Homo sapiens: one gene and its partners. The protein of the gene in region 1 purifies or fractionates together with the protein of each later gene. This does not show direct contact. Each region holds a gene or a part of one and is shown on either strand. Other genes may lie near its edges.

Region 1 (4,048 bases):
ATCTCTGCACATAAGAGTTACTTAGAAAAAATAACATTGAGCTAGAGAGGGTAGAGCTTGTGTGAATGATTATGTGACTGTGTGGCTATTTAAAATGAATGTTTCTCTTTGTGAATGACTCTGTGTGTGTGTGTGCGTGTGTGTGTGTGTGTATGTGTGTGGTGGGGTATCTAGAAGGTAAAACAAATGAAGAAAAATAGACTGTCCAGTCAAAATATGTAGGAGTAAAGTTTTCTTGGAACAAACAGGAGATTTGTTGTCAGGATACTGAGGATCAGAGGTGTCTTGGAACAGGTGGCTTGGAGTCAGGCATGACTCAGTCCAGTGCAAGAGGAGAGCCTGTGGCTGCCCAAAGTGACAACTTCTATTCAACATCACACCAGGCCCATTGCCATTCCAGGAACACCTCAACTGTAACCCCATACACCCATAGAAACAAACAGTACTGGGGTTAAATAGATGACTTCTACATCAACTCCTCTCTGTCTATAGGTCCTGACTCACAATGGGGAAACAAGGAAGGAGGAAGATTCTGCCAATGACACACACAGCCAAGACTGGAATTAAAAGCAATTTAATGAGGGAAGAGCAGGAAACATGCATTTCTTTTCATTCGAATCTTCAGATGAACCCTGAGCAGCCGAAGACCAGAAAAGCCATGAAGACTTTCTGCTTAATTCAGGGGCTTACAGGATTCTTCAGAGTGTGTGTGAACAAAAGCTTTATAGTACGTATTTTTAGGATACAAATAAGAGAGAGACTATGGCTTGGGGTGACAATGTGCTGATTACAAGGTCTACAGACAATTAAGACACAGAAACAGATGGGAAGAGGGTGTCCAGCATCTGGTGGTTGGCTTCTCAAGGGCTTGTCTGTGCACCAAATTACTTCTGCTTGGTCTTCTGCTGAGCTGGGCCTGGAGTGACCGTTGAAGGACATGGCTCTGGTAGCTTTGTGTAGCCTGGCACAGGAACTTTGGTGTATCCTTGCTCAGGAACTTTGATGGCACCTGGCTCAGGAAACTTGATGAAGCCTTGGTCAGGGACCTTGATGCTGCCTGGTTCAGGGACCTTGGTGTAGCCTGGCTCAGGGACCTTGGTACAACCTGGCTCAGGGACCTTGGTACAGCCTGGCTCAGGGACCTTGGTACAACCTGGCTCAGGGACCTTGGTACAGCCTGGCTCAGGGACCTTGGTACAGCCTGGCTCAGGGACCTTGGTACAGCCTGGCTCTGGAATCTTTGTGTTTCCAGGTTGTGGAACCTTTGAGTGGCATGGCTCCTTGGTTGTGGGAACAAATATTTCCTGAGGTGGAGGCTGGCTGGGTTGTTTCACCTGCTGCTGTTGAAGCTGAGGTGGTGGGGTAAAGGTCTGCTTCTGCTGGTAAGAACTCATGCTTCAAAGGATGCTGGACCTAGAGACAAAACAGCTAATTCAGTGCTTTGATTAAGTAGGAATGAAGCCCAGTTTAATGACAAATATCTGTCATTTCATTCTCCTTCAGAACTGAGAGCCTCTCTTTTCTTTCTTTTTCCCTGAATTTGAGATCATGGGATGCTTTGGTGATCCCCACTTATCTTCCAGAGAATAAGGTAAAGTTGATTTCTTCCACATCGTGTAAATGGAGCCTTTCTTTATGCTTCTTTTCTTCCTGGTACATCTAAAAACCTACGTACAACATGAAAACACATACAAATATGCAAATATATACTCTGAAGCTTTCGCTTACACACTCTTTGAAGAATCCTCTAAGCTCCTGAATTAAGCAGAAAGTCTTAGTGGCTTTTCTGGTCTTCAGCTGCTCAGGGATCATCTGAGGAATTGAGTGAAAAGAAATGCATGTTTCTTGCTCTTCCCTGATTAAATCACTTTTAATACCACTCTTGGCTGTGTGTCATTGGCTGAAGATTGATGTGACACCTCAGTTTTTCCATAAGTTGGAAAGATTTTAAGGTCAGCAGTCTAGAATCTACTCACTCATGTCCTCCTTATAGAGTGCGATAGTTCTCCCAGGAGAACTCTTATCTAAACTTCCCCCTAAGGCTCCCACAATCCACCTGGGAGCCTCTGTTCACACTGTGCCTGCTGCACATGCTCTCTGGCAGGCTCTCCACATCATCGCTGCCTCCCCACACATGCCCACCTCTCATGGCTGTCCTTCCTGATGCTCTCACCTTCCTCGTTTTGCCACAGCATGATACTTGCTTTCCCTCTCTGCTAATCACTCCCCATGCTGTATGTTTGCAAATTTTAGTCAAGTATATGTTTTCTAATGGATTATACATTCATGCAATAAAGAAAAACTTATCTTTTGATCATCAAAATTGCCAATGTAGTGCCTTCTATATTAAAAATTTTCAATACATGTTGACAGGAGAGTGCTCTTGAAGTGGGTATATTGTCTTGCTAACTTAGCAAGCCTTTACAGAAATCACTCCCCTTTTCTGATCCTAAGTTCCACACCTGTAATCTGAGTGGAAAGTCAAAATATGTATAAGGTCACCTTAAACAAAAGTCGTTATTGCATTTAAAATAAATATATTCATTGCATAGCAAAGAGATCTCAATCAAAATAAAGAAACTATTGGAGAATATTAAGGTGTTCCTAATGCGGAGACTCACCTGCTGTGCAGAGAAGGTCGAGGTGTTCAGCCTCTGGGATCTGGTGAAGAGTCTCTTGTTAGCTGGTATTTATATAGAAAATGAGCCCTGCCTTAAGAAAATTGGATTTTTTAAAAGACTGCTCTAACTTCATTCCAGCTTTTGTGATAAGTATCTCTGGCTTAACATTTTTTGTCACTTAAGCTCTGACAGTGATGTCACCTGGGCCTGACTCACTGTCCACCCTTTGTGGTGTGGTTGCTGTGGGCAAAGGTCTTCTTGAATGGCAATGGATTAAATTAGGAGGAAGTACCATGCTCCTAGGACTAGAACGAGCCAGGCCTCTTGGCCTGGGCCCTAATCTTTAGCCAGATTAGTCCTATTGGGCTTCCTCATGGTTGAAGTGGACATGGAAATAACAATAGGCATTTCTGGTTCTGCGAGGCCATGGGGATGGTGCAGAATAAGTGAATCATCTGATTTTCAGTCTCTTACTGGATTTGGACCTGGGAGGAGCAATGGAAGGCAAAATGCCTGCTTTGGAAATAAGTTGCTTTCACTGTGAAGGGCGCCTTAAGGTGCCGTGTTGATCAGGGATAGTAGATGTCATTGAGATGGACAGGCAGGATTGACTGGATCTGTGTGACATTGTGGCTCAGCCCTGAAGACCCTGCCTCTTGTGGTATCTTTCTTCTCCAGGAGTGACATAGGAAGAGGAGCGTGCTGATTCCCTAGGTTCATACACCAGCCATTTCCTCTGATCACTACAGGATGAACCTCAAGTCACTAACTCAGAGTTGCCCTCAATACACACTCTCTTACTAGACGCGGCCCTTGGAAAATCCAGACATCCTTACATCTCAGGCATGTGAATAGCTCCTCCTTTCCCAATGTTCCACGACTGTGTTACTCCCTTGAACCTGATGCCCAGCTCCTTCCACCAGGTTCTGAAAGCCCCTTGTTCTACTTCAGCGTCACACAGTGCCTGGTTATCATGGGTGTTAAGTCAATGGACAGTCATTGTTCTCCTGAATAGAGCTGTAGGTTCATGGAAGGGAGAAAGGAAGTGAGAAAGAAACAGAGATAGATAAAGAAGAAAGGAAAGAAAGAAAGAAAGAGAGAGAGAGAGAAGGAAAGAAAGAAAGAAAGGAAGGAAGAAAGGAAGGGGAGGGGAAGGAAAGGAAAAGAAAAGAAAAGAGAAAAGAAAAGAGGAAAGATAGGGAGGGAGGGAGGAAGGCAGGAAGCCACAAGGCAGTTTCTTGGGCATGATTCACTGTCCTGTGCCAGGCCTCCTGGTGTGAGCTGAGAAGAGGTGTGAGCTGATAATTCATGAAGGAGAAGAGGCTTACCCTCCCTTCCACACCCATGTCCTTCCCTCTCTGCTAGCATTTGTTTGACCGGCCACTTCCCTCTGGGATGGGCCAGGGCCACTGCCATGCCTAAACTCT
Region 2 (3,558 bases), on another chromosome or scaffold:
GGCCTCAGAGGTCTTTGCCTCAGCCCAGAGGCTGGGCCCAGGTTGGTGGGGAGCAGAACTCTGCCACGTGGCGGCAGTGGAGACGGGAGGCACTCGGAAAAGCTCCGTGCCCACAGGCCCTCCATCCTGAGCCTTTGGCGTCGGGGGGAGCCTGGTCCCTGAGGAACCAGTCACGCCCGTCGGCAGCTCTGGGGAGGTCCCCAGGGCCCTCTGTGCTTCCTGGGAAGAAGGAGTCGGCTCCAGGCTACTGCTTTCGCCTGTGGCTTCGGGCTCCAGGACCACAGACTCGTCCATTCCCCCGGCGGCAGGGGTGGTCCTGGGCTTCACCTCGCCGATCTGCTTCTCGAAGGTGCCGCCATTTCGAGTTAGGGCAGCAGCCTGGCGGTCCAGATGCTGCATCGCGTCCTTGACCCATTGCTCCTTCGGGTCGGCACAGAACAGCCTGTGCTGTCTCGTCTCCAAGCTACAAGGGAGGAAGACAGGGATTCGGTTATGCCCAGATACCAGAAACCCGGGCCAGCGTGGTGTGGGGGCACAGCACCAATACTCTGCAGGTGAACACACCCGGCTGGAAACCCTGTCCTCCCACTTAGCGTCTGTGAGGCAACTGACCAGCTGGGGCAACCCGCTCTCCTGAGCATCCAGGTCCTCACCCTAGAAATGGAGATAGGAAAGCCTCCCATCTGTAGGGTGACCAGCCATCCCAGAAAAATTGGGATGGAGGGGGTGCTTAGGATGGGGGACTTTCCATTTTAAAACTGGGGAAGTCCCCAGGCAAACACGGACGAGTTGATCACCCTACTTCTGTGTTACTGTAAAAAAAGGTAAATTATGTGAAGCACCCAGCTCAGAGTAGATCAGTAATAGCTGAAAATAATAACAATGTCGATAATATTGTTACCATTAAGGCAGGGGGCTCTGGGCTTTGAGTCTTCTGCTGGGGGGGACTTCAGGTGAGCTCTGTATGGGGCCTCCTCACTCTGGAACAGGCCTTATGAGACTTTGTGAGTCTTGTTGCTCCTCTCCTTCGGTTTCACAGCTACAGGCTGTGCTCCGGGCCCCTCTCCTCCCCTCCTGATGTGTGTTCACGGGCAGAAGGGGCTAGAGCCAAATATGTGGCAGCCTCACTGGGATCCCGAGCGCCCTCCAAATCTTGAACTTCCTCTGAAGCCCTGTGTGGCTAGTTCACCACCAAGCCCACAGCTCAGAGCTGACAGAGGCCCTGGCTCCATGCCACGGCCTGTGCTTGGCATTTTGCCCATGTCTAAACCTTACATCCATTCCACAAGGTGGCTACCAGGCTCATCCCCATTTTACAGATGAGGAAACCAAGGCTCAGAGAGGTGAAGTAAAGGCATCTGGCTCCAGGATGCCGGGAAACCAGAGAAGTCCAGGAAGCAAGTATGACCCTGCAGGCCCCCTGGGCACAGTGATCCCCTCCCCAACTTCCTTCTTCCCCTTCATCTAGAAAACAAAAAATACTTGGGGGTGTCTTGGAGAAGTAAGCCTTGACTGATCAGCAAAGAGGTCCGGCAGGAGCACACTCAGTACCTTGCCCACCTTAGAAACTGCATAATTGAGGAGAGGAAGTGCCAGACTTCCTTTAGCTGGGCCTAGAAAGCAAAGGGCCATTGGCCATTTCCTGCTGCCCGGCCTCTAGGTCTGGCTGAGGCTGCTTTAGGTCCCAAAAGTCAGTCCTGGGGAAAGGCCTCAGGGCTGGCTGGTTAGACAGGACCCAAGAGAGCCCCCAGGAGGAGCAAGTGACCAAGATTGCCAGGGTCTTCAACAGCCAGGGTTACAATGGCTCAATCCCTCCCCAAAGTCTCGAAATGGTCGTTTCCTGTCTGTCCAATGGAGATAGTGATTTCTGCAGCTCCTACTGACAGCACCCTGCCAGGCACTTTATTTACTTTTCTTTGTCTTTTTCTTTTTTTTGAGATGGAGTCTCACAATGTTGCCCAGGCCAGAGTGCAGTGGTGCCATCTTGGCTCACTGCAACCTCCGCATCCTGGGTTCAAGCGATTCTCCTGCCTCAACCTCCCGAGTAGCTGGGATTACAGGCGCCCACCACCATGCCAGGCTAGTTTTTGTATTTTTAGTAGAGATGGGGTTTCACCGTGTTGGCCAGCCTGGTCTTGAACTCCTGGCCTCAAGTGATCCACCAACCTCGGCCTTCAAAAGTGCTGGTATTACAGGCATTAGCCACCGCGCCCTTGCCAAGCACTTTAGTTACATCCTGTCCTAGCTACCCATTTTACAGACAAGGAAACCAAGTTGCAAAAAGTAAGCAATGGAAGCAGGGCCACCCAGCCAGTAAGAGGGAAGGCAGGATTTGCATCAGGTCTGTTAGAGTCTGGAACCTGCATTTTAAGTAAGACCCTCATGCTTTACACCTACCCACACCGCCCCATGAAATATAGTGGGTTCGAGTGTGGGGTAACATGTGCTTCAGCCCAGGAGGAATTACCACCCTTCATGGCTGCTCCAGGCCACAAGCCAGGGTGGCTGCCACCCAGCCACACTGGGCCATTCAGGAAGCCACTCTCCACCTTAGCCATGTGGCACAGAAATTAAGGTCAGTGAGGTGGCCTGCAGGCCAGGGGCAAGAGAAGCGTGTGCTGAGGCCTTTGGCTGGGAGCCCAGGTCTGGGAGCGGAGGTGTGGACGTAGATTCTCAGAGGTCTGGGAATATTCCAAGGGCCCAAAGGGGATTTCAGAGGCCTCGAGGGCAGTACCTACATGATTGCGCGTTTGCCGCATGATGCCTGGTTCTGTTGATAGTGGATGAGCAAAGCTACAGGTATCTTTGATGTCATCTTGCTGCACGTGATGTTGCATTTCGTCACACCGTGGTGCTGTCCTGAGTTCAAAGAGGTTCCTGGTCAGCAGGGATGTCTGTGGGCATCTGGCTTCCCAACCCCGTGCCAGATTGTCCCGGCCACACCACCCAAGCCAAAACTGATCCCCTGTACACCCTGGCCTTCAAGGCCTTTGACTCAGCCTCCCTCCCCTGCCAAACTTCTCTATGCCTCAGTTTCCCCACCTGTAAAATAGGAACAAAAATAGCATCTACCTCATAGTCTTGTTGTAAGAATAAGAAACGTGAATTCTTATTTATAGAGTTCTTTTTGCCTGGCACATATTAAGAGTTTAATTTTTTTTTTTTTGAGTTGGAGTCTTGCTCTTGTTGCCCAGGCTGGAGTGCAATGGCATGATCTCGGCTCACCGCAACCTCGGCCTCCCAGATTCAAGCGATTCTCCTGCCTCAGACTCCCGAATAGCTGGGATTACAGGCATGTGCCACGACTCCTGGCTAATTTTGTATTTTTAGTAGAGACGGGGTTTCTCCATGTTGGTCAGGCTGGTCTCAGACTCCCGACCTCAGGTGATCTGCCCTCCTTGGCCTCCCAAAGTGCTGGGATTACAGGCGTGAGCCACCATGCCCGAGTTAATTTTTAAAATTAAGTGGTCCATTGTGCAGCAGGGGGGATGAATCTGAGAGTGACAGGGACCTGCTAAGGTCACACAGCCAGCAAGTGATGGAGCAGGTTCTCCTGCT
Region 3 (3,558 bases), on another chromosome or scaffold:
CTTTGCCAAAACCAACAAAGTCACAGAGGCTTTCACTGCAGTGTGGGACCACCTGAGCCTCTGCGTGTGCAGGCACTGGGTCTCGAGAGGGTGCAAGGGGGATAAAGAGGAGAGAGCGCTTCATAGACTTTAAGTTTTCCCGAGCCTCATGTCTACCGATGGCGTGAAAGGATCCTGGCAAAACAGAAGTGTGAGGCAGGTGGGCGTCTATATCCATTTCACCAGGCTGGTGGTTACATAATCGGCAAGCAAGAGCTGTGGAGGGGCTTGCTGGATGCCCTCAGCACCCAGGAGGAGGGAGGGAGCTAGCAAGCTAAGGCAGGTGGCCCTCCTGGCCCCTTAAGGTCCATCTGCTGGAGGCCCAGAGTCCTTGGAGTACAGTCTACACCTGGAGGGGACCCATTCCTGCCAGTCTGTGGCAGGGATGGCGCGCCACCTCTGCCAGGCCAGGACCCCAAGCCCGATCAGCATCAGCATGGTGCAGGTGCACAGGCGTGAGCTGATCAGTGACGAGGGGCAGGCACACAAGGTGGAGACAAAGACCAAGAGGACGGTTGCCAGTGAGAGGCGCGGACTCAGGAACTTGAACAACATCTGCGGGGGACGGCTTTGGAGGTGCTCCGCTGCCTCCAGTTGGGTGACTTGCTGTAGCATCTCCAGCTTGGATATTCGGCTCTTGAAGGTCTCCGTGATCTCCTGCAGGAGACGAAAATGCACGCACCAGAAGTCAGCACAGAGTTGTGGTCGTTTATTGAGTTCTTAGGGGTGAGCAGAAAGCACTGTGGAGTGGGTATTCGAGGAGGGAAGCAGAGAGCCTAGAGCACATTCAGGGCAGAGGGGAGGGCGCAGGCTCTCCAGCAACAGGGAAAGCTTCATCTGACCCGGCTGCACTCCCCCATCCACTGTCTCCCGAAGCTGAGGACCTGGTCAAGACACAGCTACCCAGGGACGGGGGTGGGCGCTATGGGAATGGAAAAGTGAGGAGAGGGAAGCCAGGTCTAAGGAGGGGTTCTGAGAGGGCGCTCCCTACACCTGCAGCCGCAGCAGAAGCAGCTCCACCCCAGATCTCCCGAGTCAGAGGCTCACGGGTGAGCACTGCAGCACCAGAGTGGCAAAAGCAGCTAAGCCAGATGGTGGGAAGCGGAGCGTGAGTGTAAAGATCAGATGCTGCTAGCTCTGAAACAAATGTGTGTGGCCATCGAACCCTCAGGAGGGGGCAGCTCGAGGACCCGTGTCTTGCTTTGGTTTGGGGGTATCAGAATAGATTCGCTCATCCCTCCAGTCTTCTTGCAAGGCTCCCCCAGGAGGTTCTCACCCATATTTCCTTGGCTCTCTCATAGGATAGATAGGCCATTCTCTCTTCGCTGCAGGCCAGATTGTGTTTGAGGTTGTAAATCTCATTCAGCTGTCCCTGCAGGCGACCATTCACCTGTTCTTCCATCAATGCTTGCCTTGGGAGCAAAAGAGAAAGTGAGATTCCTTCAGTACCTCATCCAGAGCTCATGCCAACAGCGAGCGGTCCTGACCTAGACTAGATTCGGGTTCAGCTTCTGCCTTCCTCCCCGCTCCCCAGGCTCTAGGGAAAGCCTGCCTCCCACTCCAGGTCTGCCTGGGAACACCCCAAACACACACCAGCCACACGCACACCAATATTCATATATATTTTATATGTAGTTACTCTTTTGTAACAGCTTTACAAAAATAGCCACAGACTAGAAGTTGTAGAAATGACAGTGTGAACTATCTGTGTGTGCTCTTCAGTTCCGCAAATCCCCCAGGACCAGTGTTGAGCACGAAGTCTAGCCTGCAGTTTAGCCTGCAGTTACTCTATAGAAACATGGTGACTATAAGGATTGAAAAGCCACAAAAGACCACAGATTCCAGTACAATTCCATTAGTTACGAAATGTCCAGAATAGGCAAATCCATAGAGACAGAAAGCAGATTAGTGGGTGCCAGGGGCTGGGGGTGGGGGATGGGCAGTGGCTGCTAATGAGTACAGGGTTGCTTTGGGGCTGGTGAAAATATTGTAGGACCGGGCACGGTGGCTCACGCCTGTAATCCCAGCACTTTGGGAGGCCAAGGCGGGCGGATCATGAGGTCAGGAGATCGAGACCATCCTGGCTGACACGGTGAAACCCCGTCTGTACTAAAAATACAAAAAAAATTAGCCGGGCGTGGTGGCGGACGCCTGTAGTCCCAGCTACTCGGGAGGCGGAGGCAGGAGAATGGCGTGAACCCGGGAGGCGGAGCTTGCGGTGAGCAGAGTTCACACCACTGCACTCCAGCCTGGGCGACAGAGCGAGACTCCGTCTCAAAAAAAAAAAAAAGAGAATATTGTGGAATTAGATAGTGGTGATGGTTGAACAACTCTGTGACTATACGAAAAACCAGTGAATTGTACACTTTAAATTGGTGAATTTTATGGGATGTGAATTATATCTCAATAGAGCCGTTATTTAAACAAAAAGAGAAAAGTGAATCATGGCAATAGTTGCGCAACTCAGTAAATTTACTAAAAACCATTGAAATGTAGTTAAAATGGTGCATTTTATAATATGTAAATTATATCTCAATAGAGCTGTTAAAAAACCACAAGCAGGCCAGGCGCAGTGGTTCACAGTTGCAATCCCAGCGCTTTGGGAGGCCAAGGCAAGGGGATTGTTTGAGGCCAGGAGGAATTCAACACCAGCCTGGGCAACACAGTGAGACCCTGTCTCTACAAAAAAAATTTTTAATTATCTGGGTGTGGTGGCACGTGCCTGTAGTCTCAGCTACTCTGGAGGCTGAGGCAGGAGGACCTCTTGAGTCCGGGAGTTCGAGGCTGCAGTGAGCTGCCATCACGCCACTGCACTCCAGCCTGGGCAGCAGAGTGAGACCCTATCTCTAAAAGAAAACAATCACTACCTGTTGTGTATATAATTATATAAGTAGTAAAAGTATAAAACCATGCATGGAAAAGATAAGCACCCAAATGAGAATGGTGAGGCCAGTATAGCAAGGCCAGAATAGCAAGGAAGGGAGATGGTGCTGGAAAGGGGTAATGAGGGCTTCAACAGAATATTTTAAAGTTTTATTTCCTAAAAAAATAAGATTTGAAGTGAATATGGCAAATGTTAAGATTTCAGAAAGCTGGGGCTGTTAATTATGTTATCCTTACATTTTCCCTTTGCTTGAAATACTTCATAATTTAAAAACTTCTATGAAGTTCCCCTTTTGGCACCACAAAGAACGGGCCAGAAGGACAGAGGCCAGGGGGCCAGTGAGGGGGCTCTGGCACCACCGCTTACGTAGAAGAGAGAAGGCACCAGAGCGTGATGGAACCCATAGACTGGCAGGGCTGCCGCCCCAGGAGGCCCAGGAGGGTGGCGGCAGGCCTCAGGTGCAGGAGGTCTAAACGGTGGTGCTGACAGAGACGGGGAAAACAGTGACGACTTCTATTCGGTCCCACTCCAAGGACTTGACCAACACCCACACGGAGAAATCCCCCGGGCACTGAATAAGCTGACAGCTCATTTGTTGAAAGCCAATTTGTCAAAAGCTGGTTCCTCGCAGCATT
Region 4 (3,558 bases), on another chromosome or scaffold:
CTCTTGGTAACTAGCTACCTTCTTCATTTATTGCAGAGACTCTGGAAAACTGCAAAAAGGTTAAGCACATTTACAGAACAAAAAAGCTTAAATTAACACTTAGAGGAAAAGATAAACAGGCAGTAAACATTTGCATTACCAGGAGGAAGTATTTTTTTCACCATATCTTGTATCTGTTACTTAACTATAGTTATTGAATTTCTAAAAACTTCCCCAAAGCGATCAACATGGAGCAAAGTTCTCTCTATAAACAAAAAGAAATGAAGTGTTTGTATGCTCTGAGGAAGTAATGACTCTGCAGCACTTACAGTTCTTTTCGATTCATATAGTTAGAACAAAGAATTTTCATTGGCAGGGAGCTGGCAAATGGTAGATACAAATACCTATCCCTTCCCCCACTAAAAACACACATGCTTAGACCATTTCACTTTGTAGGCTTCTGGTTATTTGTGAGTCAGTCAAATGTAAACCACATTTGATGGGAAGAAAGTGTGTTCAGAAGAGGACCGACAGAAAAAAGTTGAAGACTCCAGGGACTAGAGTTCTCAAGAAAGTCAAAGAGAACTTGAGGTGATCATGAGAGAATAAAAACTCTGAAAAAATTACCATATGTCCCAACAGTTCCTCTCCTAGATGCCGATCCACGAGAAAAAGAAACATATGTCCACACGAAGACTTGTGCTGAAGCATTCATGGCAGCATTATGCATATTGGCCAAAAATGCAAACAACTCAAATGCCAATCAACTGAAGGACAAACAAAATGTGGTGTAGGCCGGGCGCGGTGGCTCACACCTGTAATCCCAGCACTTTGGGAGGCCGAGGCGGGTGGATCACAAGGTTAGGAGTTCGAGACCAGACTCACCAGCATGGTGAAACCCCATCTCTACTAAAAATACAAAAATTAGCCGGGTGTGGTGGTGTGCGCCTGTAATCCCAGCTACCCAGGAGTTTGAGGCAGGAGAATTGGTTGAACCCGGGAGGCGGAGGTTGCAGTGAGCCAAGATTGCGCCACTGCACTCCAGTCTGGGTGACAGAGTGAGACTCCATCTCAAAAACAAACAAACAATATGATGTAGCCATAATGGAGTACATATTCAGCCACAAAAGGAATGAGGCCCTGACACATGCTGCTACATGGACAAACCTTGCAAACGCGATGCTAAGTGAGAGAAGCCAGTCACAAAAGAGTGCACACTACATGATTCCATTTATATGAAACGTCCAGTACAAGTCAATCGACAGAAAGCAGATTTGTGGCTACCGGGGACTGGGGGTAGGAATGAGGAGTGACTGTAAATGGGTATGAGGTTTCTTTTTGTGGTGATGGAAATGTGCTAAACCTGGATTGTGGTGATGACTGCACAACTCTGTAAATACACTAAAAATCCTTCAATTGTATGCTTAATATGGGGGAATATTATGGTGTGTAAATACATCTCAACAAAACTGTAAACTAAAAAGGAACCTACGGGGCCGGGTGCGGTGACTCACGCCTGTAATTCCAGCACTTTGGGGGGCTGAGGTGGGCGGATCACCTGAGGTCAGGAGTTCGAGACCAGACTGGCCAACATGGTAAAATCCTGTCTCTACTAGAAATACAGAAATTAGCCTGGCCCCATTGGTTCCAAGTCATGACGGTCTAGGCTGATCCCATGGGGTGGGCTGCTGGGATCATGGACAAGGTCAGGAGGCCCTAACCCTGACTTCCACAGAACTGCCCTTGACACTCTGCTGGGATGTGCATTCATGTGTGCAGCTCCCACAGGGGACTGGAAGTAACTTGAGGGCTGAGGCTCTATCAGGTCTGATTCATGTGTCTGTCTCTAAGCCCTGCACATGCCCTGAGACACAATCCTGCATGGCTGGCACTCGATAATGTCCATTAGGAAAATCCAATGATGCTTTGAAAATGTCTTCCTCCATCCCCAGCAGCCTTGCGCAGGATAGTTTAGTGGATTACAGATAAGCTTTCTAGCTCTGTCTTAGAAAGTCATCCAACCTCTCCAAAGTGTAGTGGAAAAATACCATCTGCCTCCTGGGTTGCCATGGGAATTTTAACTCAATCTGATCTCACAGGAGACACCGTGACCTATTGCACAGTCGTTACCTGAGACTGAACTTCTGCAGGGCCCCAAGAACATTCTCCCTGGTGATGATATCCTTGTCCTCCTCCTTCAGCCTTCCCTCCAGCATCTGCAGCACCTTTGTGTTCTGGGCAAGGTAGAGGCGACCTGATAATACACCAGAGATGAAACAGGTGAAAGACAGAAATAATTTATCTGGTATGCTACAAAACCACTTTCCACGAAAACTTACTTTGCATATAACACAGTAGAGTTTGGGTAATTTTATGTTCTAAAAAACTTACTGGGCAGGGCGCGGTGGCTCACGCCTGTAATCCTAGCAGTTTGGGAAGCCAAGGCAGGCAGATCACCTGAGGCCAGGAGTTTGAGACCAGCCTGGCCAACATGGTGAAACCCCGTCTCTATTAAAAATACAAAAATTAGCTGGGTGTGGTGGCAGATGCCTGTAATCCCAGCTACTCGGGAGGCTGAGGCAGGAGAATTGCTAGACCCCAGGAGGCAGGTTGCAGTGAGCCTGAGATCGTGCCACCACACTCTAGCCTGAATGACGGAGCGAGACTCCATCTCAAAACAAACAAACAAACAAACAAACAAACAAACACTTACTGGTTGTGCAAGGTGGCTCACGCCTGTAACCCTAGCACTTTGGGAGGCTGAGGCAGGTAGACTGTTTGAGCCGAGGCGTTGGAGACCAGCCTGGGCAACAGGGCGTAACCTCATCTCTATAAAAACTAAGGAACATTAGCCAGGTATGATGATGCACACCTGTTGATCCCGCTAATTGGGGGGCTGAGGCGCGAGGAGTATTCCTTGAGCCCAGGTGGTTGAGGCTACAGTGAGCCGAGATCATGCCACTGTACTCCAGTCTGGTTGACAAAGTGAGACTCTCTCAAAAAAAAAAAAAAAAAAAAAAACCAAACACACACACACACACAAAACCCCCACAAAACTTATTAAAACTTATTAAAAGATATTTCTTCTAAACGTTAAACGTTGGTTTTATTCAATGAAATATCTGGTGACTAGAAAAACCACTCTTCTTGTGAGCTAAACATAATTCATTGCTGTGTTCTTGTGGGGAGCATTGTCCTTTTTTTTCCATGAAATCCTGAACCCAACAGTCAGATCTACAAAGAGAAATGAGGGGTAATGTGTGTGTTATGAGCCCTTAAGTCTTCACAACAGAGGCAGCCAAGGAATGCTTCCATACACACTCTCTGTACAAGGCCTGGAGAAGAAGCAGGAAGCCACACCTGGGACCCTGTAATAAGCCCAGAATGGTCCCTAGCCTGTTGTGGACTTCTGAATGGATATGGAAGATGTTAATTTCAGACATAAGTTTCAACAGTATTATTATATGAATGGTCCTCAGTAACACATCCTGGCTTATCATAAATGTCTGCCAAATGGATGGAAGAACGAATGAACAAATGAACAAAGTTTTGGAGTATCATATATTCATAATTTGAAAA
Region 5 (3,558 bases), on another chromosome or scaffold:
AATGCTGGGAGGGCCATCCCAGGGCTCCAAGCTCGGAATAGGGGAGGTTTTGCAAGCCAGTTCTTGCTACACACATCCCCGCGAGGAAGGTGCTGGCTACCCACGCTGTGGAAGGGAAAACTTGGCTCAGAGAGATGCAGTGACTTGCCCAAGGCCACACAGCCAGTGAGTGACCCAACTAGGTAAGAAACCAGAAACCAGTGACCACGACCAGTGCTCACTGCCCCAGGCCACAGCTGTGCCTCCGGGAATGCCCTCACCGCCTGCCCCTGAGGGTTAGGGAATCACTGTCACTTTTCCCGCTGTGGTCCCCCACACAGGCCCTGACCTGGTCCACTGAGACCTCCGGCTCCTCTGACTTCTCCTCCTACTCCTCCCCTCGCACACCAGCCAAGCCGTTTCCCGGGAAAGGCTCACACTGCCCACCTCCCTGTGCTGGTCCACACAAAGCCCCTGCCCAGAATGTCCTTCCCACCTTAGCTGTCCATATGTTCTCACCAACCTGGTCTCTGGCCCCCACACCCTCCAGGCTGCCCAGCCCTCCAAGCCTTTGATCCTGTCTGTATCTCCCTCTGGAATACGCTTCCAGCCCCATTTCACTCCCAACTTCTATTCATGCTTCAAAACCCTGCCCAGACAAGTCCTCCTCTCTGGCGGAGCTTCGTCGTCCTCTACCTGTAAAGAGCCCATGGTTCCCTCTCTCAGGTGACTACTTTGCCTGGACCACGAGCAGGCACTTGGTGAGTCTCCACCCCTTCAAGGGCTGTGGGTTCTGTGTGGGCCAGGCCGATGCCTGCTTATTCTCCACAGTCTCAGGCCTGTCACCCAGTGAATGCAGGTGGAAGGGAATTAAACCACCTCCTCCAGGAAGTCCTCAGAGAACGCTACTCAATGTTAGGCTGCAGAAGCGCTAACACTTCAGAGTAACACAAAAGACACCTCTCCTGAGAGGAGTCCCCCACACCCCCAAAAAGTGGGCAGCCCAGCCTTTTTAATACACTTTGCCTGTCCAGCCCTGGACAGAATTCCTGGTTACCTCTCAGTTCCTCAAACGGCCCTGTTCCCGCCTGTCTGGAAAGTGCCTGCAAACAGTGGCCCCTGACTTCCCACTCTCCTTCCTCTCTCCCTTCTCTTCCTCCCCACTGCCAGGCTGGCTGACTTTTACTCATCCCTCCAGCCCCTGCTCAATGTCACCTCCTCCAAGAAGCCTTTCCTGACTTCCAGCCATGTCGGGGCTACCACCCCACCTAAACCAGCACTCCTTGGGGAACTCAGCATCCCAGGTGGCAGGCACTAAGCCTCATTTGTTTGCCGCTGCACCCTGGGGCCAGCCCGCGGTCTGGTGCACAGCAGGTGCTGGCGTGCACCTACTCTGGGTACCACCTACACTGCTGTGGGATTTCAGGAAGAAGGCGCTGTCCAGGGAGACACAGTGAGGCATGATGGGAAAAGCCACACCTGTGTTGTTTTTCCAGTTTTGACCAGAAACACACTTTTGGGAAATGCTTGGACACTCTCTCCTCTAATGTCCAGCCACAGTGCTAGTGCCAAGAAGCCCCACAAGATTCACCTGTCTCCTCTGGGTCATCCCTGGAATCTCAGGGCCACGGTGATGGGGAAAGAGCTGGGACCTTGAGAAGCAACAGCCACCTTCTCTGAGGCCAGGCAGGGGGCTGAGGGTCTTTGTATGTTAGGTCTTGAAGTCTCATGTGATCCAAGACAAAAGGATCTTAAGTTACCCCCATTAGACAGATGAGGAAACTGAGGCCTGAAGAGGTCAAGGACCTTTCTTGTTGGGCGGGAACACAGAGTTCCTTGGGAAGCCAGGACATCCTGGCTGTGTGACCCTGGGTGAGTGACCTAACTTCTCTGAGCCTCAATCTCTTTAATGTGGAGGGGAAAATACCTATTTCTTGGAGCCATTAGGAGAATCCAAAAAAACAGAGGATGTTCAAGCCACCCCACTGGGAGATGCTGAGAAGCTAAGCAGTCTCATTTTCCATGTCCCCAAATGCCCCTGCCACAGGGCCCCTCCCCAGAGGACCAGAGGGACAGGTGCAGGAATGTGTCAATGGTGTGACACCCCTGAGGGTCCCCCTTACTTAAGAGACCCACAGGCAGCCAGGACCAGAGAGGAACCTTATGCACAGACCACCATGGGCAACCCTCACCCCATTTTCCGGATGAAGAAATTGAGGCTTACAGAGAGGAAGGGACTTGCCCAAGATCTCCCAGCCAGTGGGTGGCAGAGCAAGGCTAGATCCTGTTACCCAATTCAGAAAGGCCCACATGGTAAGCATCGCTGCTATTTCATGGCTGGAAATGGAGTTGGAGAGAGCAGAGACCATGTTTTCATCTAGTGCCTGTAGAACTCTGAGGCCTGGCCCTAGAATGGAGTGGAGGAGGGGAATGGGGCAGGTGGAAGGGGCCCCAGCACCCAGGTATCACCTGACCACCACCGAAGCCCACCCCCACGGAGGAAGGATGGTGCATTCAAGGAACCCAGAGACCACAGGGCACGCATGGCTAGTGACTTGGGGGTGAGAAAGGATTGATGTCATAGGGGCACGGACCAGTCAGGTCTTGGTTCTCAGGGCAATGGGGAACCAGCAAGGGGCCAAGCCAGGCAGAGGTGATGAGATCAGATTTGCATTTATAAAAGGTCCCAGCTGGGCACGGTGGCTCACGCCTGTAATCCCAGCACTTTGGGAGGCTGAGGCAGGTGGATCACCAGGTCAAGAGATCGAGACCATCCTGGCCAACATGGTGAAACCCTGTCTCTACCAAAAATACAAAACTTAGCTGGGTGTGGTGGTGCATGCCTGTAGTCCCAGCTACTTGGGAGGCTGAGGCAGCAGAATCGCTTGAACCCGGGAGGCAGAGGTTGCAGTGAGCCGAGATCGCACCACTGCACTCCAGCCTGGTGACACAGCGAGACTCCGTCAGGAAGGAAGGAAGGAAGGGAGGAAGGGAGGGAGGAAGGGAGGGAGGGAAGGAGGGAGGGAGGGAGGGACCCTCTTGGAGAAGTCTTAGGGAGGGGCCAGAGGGGAACAGAGGGGGAAACTGGCACATCAGCCAGGAGGGGAGGCCCTTACCGTGCTATTGGTTGAAAGATGAAGGCAGCTGGAGGTGTCACGGGGCAGGGAGAGGTGGAGCAGGAGGGAACAGAATACCCAACAGAAGGGGTGCCTGAGCTAAGGCAGAGGCTTGAGCCACTGGACATCATGAGGCACCCACACACACAGCGGCAGGAGCAGGGATGGGGCTGCCGAGAGGCCAGGCAGAACCTGGTGGGGCCTGGCGCACACAGCTAGGGAGGCTGATGTCATCCTGTCCACTGGAATCCCAGGCTGGATTCGCCAGTTTACCGAAGAGAGGATTTCAAATGAAAGTGAAAATTAAGTGCCAAATGATTCAACCTCAATTAGCAGCACACATTCTTCCATGCAGAGCTGAGCCCTGCCTTCCTCCCCGGGGTCGGGGAGGCAGTCATGACGGAGCAACAGGAATGGGCTCAGCTCTGTTCTAGAAACTGGCGCGATGGCAGGGAGTGAGGCA

The links.
Region 2: the proteins of SPRR3 (region 1) and CX3CL1 purify together in Homo sapiens (co-immunoprecipitation; one large-scale study listed by IntAct). This does not show direct contact.
Region 3: the proteins of SPRR3 (region 1) and TEX28 purify together in Homo sapiens (co-immunoprecipitation; one large-scale study listed by IntAct). This does not show direct contact.
Region 4: the proteins of SPRR3 (region 1) and ARMC9 purify together in Homo sapiens (co-immunoprecipitation; one large-scale study listed by IntAct). This does not show direct contact.
Region 5: the proteins of SPRR3 (region 1) and RAC2 purify together in Homo sapiens (co-immunoprecipitation; one large-scale study listed by IntAct). This does not show direct contact.

What each region holds. Positions count from the first base shown.
Region 1 is NC_000001.11:153,000,367-153,004,414, reverse strand, and holds SPRR3 (small proline-rich protein 3), read right to left. Parts: upstream 2,667-4,048; 5' UTR 2,622-2,666; intron 1,813-2,621; exon of another isoform or gene 1,729-1,812; intron 1,414-1,728; 5' UTR 1,395-1,413; coding exon 885-1,394; 3' UTR 559-884; downstream 1-558. UniProt on the Homo sapiens protein: Cross-linked envelope protein of keratinocytes.
Region 2 is NC_000016.10:57,378,935-57,382,492, reverse strand, and holds part of CX3CL1 (fractalkine isoform 1 precursor), read right to left. Parts: intron 2,860-3,558; coding exon 2,739-2,859; intron 464-2,738; coding exon 1-463. UniProt on the Homo sapiens protein: Chemokine that acts as a ligand for both CX3CR1 and integrins ITGAV:ITGB3 and ITGA4:ITGB1. The CX3CR1-CX3CL1 signaling exerts distinct functions in different tissue compartments, such as immune response, inflammation, cell adhesion and chemotaxis.
Region 3 is NC_000023.11:154,271,076-154,274,633, forward strand, and holds the end of TEX28 (testis-specific protein TEX28), read right to left. Parts: intron 1,452-3,558; coding exon 1,316-1,451; intron 697-1,315; coding exon 340-696; 3' UTR 190-339; downstream 1-189.
Region 4 is NC_000002.12:231,271,630-231,275,187, reverse strand, and holds part of ARMC9 (lisH domain-containing protein ARMC9), read right to left. Parts: intron 2,234-3,558; coding exon 2,110-2,233; intron 1-2,109. UniProt on the Homo sapiens protein: Involved in ciliogenesis. It is required for appropriate acetylation and polyglutamylation of ciliary microtubules, and regulation of cilium length. Acts as a positive regulator of hedgehog (Hh)signaling.
Region 5 is NC_000022.11:37,234,242-37,237,799, forward strand, and holds part of RAC2 (ras-related C3 botulinum toxin substrate 2), read right to left. Parts: intron 1-3,558. UniProt on the Homo sapiens protein: Plasma membrane-associated small GTPase which cycles between an active GTP-bound and inactive GDP-bound state.